2 linked regions of the Homo sapiens genome follow. The protein of the gene in region 2 interacts with the protein of the main gene of each other region in a biochemical or structural test. Each region holds a gene or a part of one and is shown on either strand. Other genes may lie near its edges.

The links. The genes of interacting proteins can lie anywhere in the genome.
Region 1: of the proteins of LCK (region 2) and PTPRC, one has a biochemical effect on the other in vitro, tested with the Homo sapiens proteins (5 studies listed by BioGRID and IntAct, with this or other methods).

Annotation. Positions count from the first base shown.
Region 1 is NC_000001.11:198,636,967-198,640,718, forward strand, and holds the start of PTPRC (receptor-type tyrosine-protein phosphatase C isoform 1 precursor), read left to right. Parts: upstream 1-2,073; 5' UTR 2,074-2,171; intron 2,172-2,259; 5' UTR 2,260-2,302; coding exon 2,303-2,375; intron 2,376-3,752. UniProt on the Homo sapiens protein: Protein tyrosine-protein phosphatase required for T-cell activation through the antigen receptor. Acts as a positive regulator of T-cell coactivation upon binding to DPP4.
Region 2 is NC_000001.11:32,268,158-32,271,909, forward strand, and holds part of LCK (tyrosine-protein kinase Lck), read left to right. Parts: intron 1-3,752. UniProt on the Homo sapiens protein: Non-receptor tyrosine-protein kinase that plays an essential role in the selection and maturation of developing T-cells in the thymus and in the function of mature T-cells. Plays a key role in T-cell antigen receptor (TCR)-linked signal transduction pathways.

The sequences.
Region 1 (3,752 bases), about 170 Mb from region 2:
TTTCCTATAGACACTAAACTCAATTTTAACACAATGAATATGTTAAAACATTATATATGTGTTGGATTAACACATATAATGCAACTCATTTGTTGCTAATCTATCTTGGATTCCTTGGGTAGAATCTGTCTTCTCACCTGTCTGAAATGGAATTGAATCTCCTAACTTCTTACTATTTTTTTAAAGCCACAAATCCCTTTTAAAATGTCCGTTTAAGGCTGCTAAACTCACATTGTTATAGAGTATATTTTATATACTTTTCTTCCTTTTAAAAGATCATATACACTTTTCTCCTGGCCTCTAATTTTGCCAAATATTCTGCCATAACAGCAAGCTCACAGAACACAAGTATTTGCTTAAAGATATTTAAAGCAAATCCCCAAAGAGTTTTCTGTTGCAAATGTATTTTAAGACATAGGCTGAGGAGCTGAGTATTCAAATCCATGAGTTCTGACACTGATGTTTTATTAGGCCTACCCACATGAAAATTAGTGCTTACTTGCACAGTTATCTTATTTAAAAATACATTTGCAAAAAGAGAATAATTTCATTTTCACTGATTCAAAGGTCTATCTTTTCGAGTATTATAAACTTACATAGTACAAAAAGATTGGTAAAAGGGATGAGAAAAATAAAGGGCAATAGTAAGGTGAGTAAGGAAAGCAAAATTAAACTTGGAGACTTGGGTTCTAAATATAGCTTGTCTACATCCTAGCTGCAAGATCTTAGGCAACTCAACTAACCTCTCTGAACATCACAGATAAAATGGGGAATAATAACATTATCTAGCTCAAGGGTATCGTACAAATTATACAATATATGTAAAGTGCAAAGCATAGTTCCTGCACATAGTAAGTGCTCCATAAGTTAAATATAATAATAATCATAGTAAAATAATATTCTTAACTACAATCTTATTAAAAGGTTATTACCTAGAGTTTAAGCTGTGGGGTTATTTCCATTTGCACAAAGTGTGATAGAAATTTGGCTCTGTAGTTCCTAGCAGCCAATGTAAGAGTAAAACAAAAAAGTTTGTAAGTATCAAAAGATTTATTTACTTAAATATAAGAACCCTACAATAATGCTTCCAAACTAGGGTTTGCAGAATTACCACAAGGGCTCTGTCTGTCTAAAAGTCCCCCAAGCATTATCTATTGTTCAAATAAATGAGTTGCACATGTGTGTACTTTTATTTTTAAAGGCATATAGATATTGTATTAATAAAACCAATTCATCTAATTGTATTGTTGAATTTATACTTTTTGCCAGTAAGCATTTTCCTAATAGATGGACTTAACTAAGAACATCAGAATGGTGAAGAGCATTGTGTTAATACAATTCATTGTCTTATTTGTTAAAAAAGTTGAAAAAGTATTGCTGAGAAAAAGGAAACAAGTTAACTTTTGTTAAAGGTATCTCTTGGTTTTCACTGTCCTTTCCCTCATCAGTAGCGCCAAGAACATCTTAAGTCACAGAAACATTAGTTTTTGGAAGCAGGGTTTGCTGTAACTATAGTAGAAATGACATTCTGATTCCACTCCTAGCTTCACAAGGATATCTGTGAAAGATTTGGGGCAAAACTGTTAAGCTGTCTGAAAGTGCTTTTGCATAAGAAATGGGTTTTACTGCTAAAACTGTCATATTGCTGAGTTTTGAATGCCCTAATGGTAAATGATACTGGGTTGCCAAAAATAACCAGATTAGTAGTTTTTTCATTCATTTGGCCGTCTCAGTAAGTCAAATATTGATACTTTCTACTAAGTCATCTTGCCAACACCCATTTTGTTATACTTATGCTGAATCTGTTTGTCATCTCTTAAGTAAGAAAATTATTGATTATTTTGTGGGGATTTAATTTAAAAAAAATGGTAATGGATACTGTAAAGGAGCATTATTTGGATGGTTTAAAAACATCTTCCTTGATGGGAAAATCTTTTAAAAGGCTTTCTAACTTGGTGTAATTACTTGAATTAAGGAAGTGCAATGCCATTCTACTGACTTAGAACAACTTTTTTGACTTCCTGCAAAGAGGACCCTTACAGTATTTTTGGAGAAGTTAGTAAAACCGAATCTGACATCATCACCTAGCAGTTCATGCAGCTAGCAAGTGGTTTGTTCTTAGGGTAACAGAGGAGGAAATTGTTCCTCGTCTGATAAGACAACAGTGGAGAGTATGCATTTATTTATTTACTTTTACATTTTTGATTCGTTTTTACAGAGAAAAACTTCTACAGAGATAACAATTATTTTGCTTTTCAGAAGGACGCATGCTGTTTCTTAGGGACACGGCTGACTTCCAGATATGACCATGTATTTGTGGCTTAAACTCTTGGCATTTGGCTTTGCCTTTCTGGACACAGAAGTATTTGTGACAGGTAAGTACAAGGATATTAATATTTTTTAAATTATTTTTTCTCTTTTGGAGGAATGTTTGAAATAGACATAAAAATAATTTAAATGTGTTGGTAACTGGAAGTGAGAAGCCTGCTGTAAACCATCAAGATTGTTGTCTCAGGGAGACATAGCTAGTTGTGTGACAGAATACATTGTTTCTGTTTACAAAGACATAAATGTTTCGGGACAAAAAATACAATTTTAAAAGGAAAGCAATGTCTATCTGTATCTTTATTTACAACTGTTCAAAGATATTACAAAAGCAACATTATTACTTAACTTCCAAAGTGACAATAACACACATTTATAAAAGCCTGAGAATTTTTTAATGATAAAATAAGTGAGTTTTTATTCTTTTAACAAATTTGATCTTTTAAAAAGTCATAAAACAGCTTTGGTTGTATGTAAGCCACTCCCTCTTTTCAGACCTGAAGTTTGCTTCCTCAAATTTTGAATTTAATTGACATATTTTATTGAATACTTGGGTATATAATAGTTCAAAAATATATTGAGATATTTAGTAAAATATTAACTTTCTGCAATTTTTATCACAGAATGTATTTTAAATCAAGTTTTTAGTTTCTTGTTAATAGTTTTAATACATTTTTGCTTTAGAAATTCTTGTGGAGCCACCGCCCTTCCTGGGTGGTGGGTAAATATTACAGCCTTGATGAGATAGAAATATTTAAACTCTTAAAAATCATGCAAATGCTGTATTCAGTAGGAAAATGCAACTAGTTGGACTTCCAGTGCCTATTAAAGTTTGAAATCTTTGCACATTTATGGTCTATTCAATGGATAGTTCTTGAGCGGCGTCAATATGAATCATGAGTACATTTCAATAGATTATAGAATGTAACTAATAATTAATATTTAATATTTCTCTTTATGATGTAGTATCTAAAAGGACATTGAAAATAAAATTTTTGTAGAAATTCCAAAAAGTATAAAAAGTATTTTAAAACAACTTGCTTATTACAATTCACTTTGAAGTCTTTTTTTGACTTTTACCGTTCTTCTTTCCTCTGAAAGTCAGGGAAGTAGCTACCTCTTGAGCATGTTACATTGACAATTTCTATTTGGAGAGGAAAGAAAGAGGAAAGAAAAACAACATAAGATTTTTGTTGTTGTTGTTGTGGCTGTTTTGCTTTTTATTGCAAAGGTGAATTTTTTAAAAATCTATATATTTGCAGCATTTGTCTTAGTACAGAAAATGTTTATCAAGTTACCATCCCTTTAAAGCTTATGATAATAAAAAGTAAATTATAAAGAATAATAATCTCAATGAAGTGATATATGTATATTATCACAAATCAGAACAGATTTTCATTTAAAATTCCCACTCAGGAAATGTCGAA
Region 2 (3,752 bases):
CACTCCAGCCTGGGAGACAGAGTGAGACTCTGTCTCAAAAAAAATAAAAAAGAAAAAAGTAATGAGAGAAATGCAAATGCAGAAAGAGAAATGCAAATGCCTGGCAGTATGTTGGGCTTCTTTTCAAAACTTAAAAAAATTTATTATTATTATTCATTTATTTATTTACTTTAGACAAGGGGTCTTGTTCTGTCACCCAGGCTGGAGTGCAGTGGTGCAATCGTAGCTCACTGTGGCCTTGAACTCCTGGGCTCAAGTGATCCTCCTGCCTCAGCCTCCCAAGCACCTGGGATTATAGGCATGCACCACCATGCCCAGCTAGTTTTTATAATAATAATAATAATAAGAGGCTTGCTTGAGGTGATGGATAGCTCATTTATCCCTTTTGTGATTATTACACATTGTATGCCTCTATCAAAATATATCATGTACCCCATAAACATATATACTTACCAGATACCCATAAAAGTAAATAAATAAATAAGTAAATAAATAAATATACAAAATTAGCCGGGCGTGGTGGCACATGCCTGTAATCCCAGCTACTTGGGAGACTGAGGTAGGAGAATCGCTTGAACCTGGGAGGCAGAGGTTGCGGTGGGCCGAGATCGTGCCATTGCACTCCAGCTTGGGCAACAAGAGCAAAACTCCGTCTCAAAAAAAAAAAAAAAAGAAAAGAAAAGAAACAGGAGTCTAGGGCTGGGCACAGTGGCTCATTGCCTGTAATCCCAGCACTTTGGGAGGCTGAGGTCAGGAGTTCGAGACCAGCCTGGCCAACGTGGCAAAACTCTGTCTCTACTAAAAATACAAAACACAAAATACAAAAATTAGCCAGGCGTGGTGGTGCACGCCTGTAGTCCCACCTGCTTAGGGAGGCTGAGGGAGGAGAGACAGAGCTTGCAGTGAGCCCAGATCACACCACTGCACTCCAGCCTGGGCAACAGAGCAAGTCTAAAAAAAAAAAAAAAAGGAAAGAGAGAAAAGAAACAGGAGTCTAGGCTGGGCATGGTGGTTCACGCCTGTAATCCCAGCACTTTGGGAGGCTGAGGTGGGTGGATCACTTGAGGTCAGGAGTTCAAGACCACCCTGGCCAACATGGTGAAACCCCCATCTCTACTAAAATTACAAAAATTAGCTGGGCGTGGTGACACATGCCTGTAGTCCTAGCTAGTCAGGGGGCTGAGGCAGGAGAATCACTTGAACCTGGGAGGTGGAGGTTCCAGTGAGCCAAGTTCACACCACTGAACTCCAGCCTAGGTGACAGAGTGAGATTCTGTCTGTTTTTTTTTCTTTTGAGATGGTATCTTGCTCTGTCACCTAGGCTAGAGTGCAATGGCGTGGTCTCAGCTCACTGCAACCTCCACCTCCATGGTTCAAGCAATTCTCCTGCCTCAGCCTCCCAAGAAGCTGGGATTACAGGCGCGCACCACCACGCCCAGCTAATTTTTGTATTTTTAGTAGAGACAGGGTTTCACCATGTTGGCCAGGCTTGTCTCGAACTCCTGACCATGTGATTTGCCCTCCTCAGCCTCCCAAAGTGCTGGGATTACAGGCATGAGCCACCGCGCCCAGCCGAGACTCTATTAAAAAAAGAAAAAAGAAAGAAACAGGAGTCTAAAGCAAAGGAGATTAATTACCCAGTCCCATTCTTCCACCTTCCAAAGCAGGAGTTGGTAGGACAGAATTGTGCACTGGTGAAAGTGTTTCTAAGCACTAAACTAAGCTAACATTCATGTGAGCTTATGAGAAATGGATGAAGAGCCCCATTTGACAGAAGAGGAAAAGTGAGGCTTAGGAGGAATGATTTCAGCAAAGTCACACAGTAAGTGTCAAAATTGCTATTTGAACTTAGGTCTCTAACTATGGGGACAGTCTTCTGAGTTTTGCTAATGAGAAACTTCCACTGCTCCCTGCTTCCACTTAGACCCAGCATGAATTCTCTCTCTCTGTCTCTCTTTTGTTTTTTCTTTTTAGACAGAGTCTCTGTCACCCAAGTTGGAGTGAACAGTGCGGTGGCAGTGGCAGGATCTAGGCTCACTGCAACCTCCACCTCTTGAGTTCAAGCAATTCTCCAGCCACCATGCCCAGCTAACTTTTTTTTTTTTTTTTTTTTTGTATTTTTAGTAGAGACAGGGTTTCACCATTGTTGGCCAGGCTGGTTGTCTTGAACTTCTGACCCCAGGTGATCCACCCACCTTGGCCTCCCAAAGTGCTGGGATTACAAGCATGAGCCACCGTGCCCAGCCTGCTCTTTTGAGATGGAGTCTCGCTCTGTCATCCAGGCTGGAGTGCAGTGGCTTGATCTCGGCTCACTGCAACCTCTGCCTCCCGGGTTCAAGTGATTCTCCTGCCTCAGCCTCCTGAGTAGCTGGGATTACAGGCGTGTGCCACCATGCCTGGCTAATTTTTGTATTTTTAGTAGACACGGGGTTTCACCATGTTGGTCAGGCTGGTCTTGAACACCTGACCTCGTGATCCACCCGCCTCAGCCTCCCAAAGTGCTGGGATTACAGGAATGAGCCATCGTGCCCGGACTTTTTTTTTTTTTTTTTTTTTTTTTTGAGACGGACGGAATCTCACTCTGTTGCCAGGCTGGAGTGCAATGGCGCAATTCCGGCTCACTGCAACCTCTACCTCCTGGGTTTAAGCGATTCTCCTGCCTCAGCCTCCTGAGTAGCTGAGATTACAGGCACCTGCCACCAAGCCCGATTAATTTTTGGATTTTTAGTAGAGGCAGGGTTGCACCATGTTGGCCAGGATGGTCTCGATCCCTTAATCTTGTGACCCACCCGCCTTGGCCTCCCAAAGTGCTGGGATTACAGGTGTGAGCCACCGCGCCTGGCCTTTTTTTTTTTTTTTTTGAGACAGGCTCTCGCTCTGTTATCCAGGCTGGAGTGCAGTGGCACAATCGTAGCTCATTGCAGCCTTGAGCTCCTGGGCTCAAGTGATCTTTTTGCCTCAGCCTCCCAAGTAGCTGGAACTACAGGCATGCCCCATCACACCTGGCTAATTTTTTGATTTTTTTTCTAGAGATGAGGTCTCACTATGTTGCCCAGGCTAGTCTGGAACTTCTGAGTTTGAATGGTCTTACTGCCTCAGTCTCCCAAAGTGCCGCGATTACAGATGTGAGCCACCACGCCCGGCCAGCAACTCCAGCTTTGCTCTACTCCAAATAGGTTGTGTGACTTTAAGCATACCTCTGTGGGCCTCAGTTTGCTCATCTAAAATCAGAGGTTTAGCCAGGTATGGCAGCTCATGCCTGTAATCCCAGCACTTTGGGAGGCCAAGAAGGAAGGATCACTTGAAGCCAAGAATTTGAGACCAGTCCGGGCAACATAGCAATACCCCCATCTCTAGAACAAATAAAAAATCACCTGGGCTCAGTGGTGCCAGCTACCCAGGAGGCTGAAGTTAGAGGATCACTTGAGCCCAGGAGTTTGAGGTTCCAGTGAGTTAGGATTGGGTCATTGCACTGCAGTCTGGGCAAGAGAGTGACACTTTATCTCAAAAATAAATCAACAAATAATAAAATTGGAGATTAGGCTTGCTGGTTTCTAAGACCTTTGCAGATGGGAGACTCTATGCATTAACACTGCATGTTCCAGTTGACATTTATTAACTAATTTTGGGTGCTGGTGGCTTTCAGACAAATAAACTACAGCTTCTGCTCTTGATGAACCCCCACTCTCATCAAAGGTATGGGAGAGGCAGTGGGACCCTGGGGCTGACATGTAAATCAGTAATCATGGAAC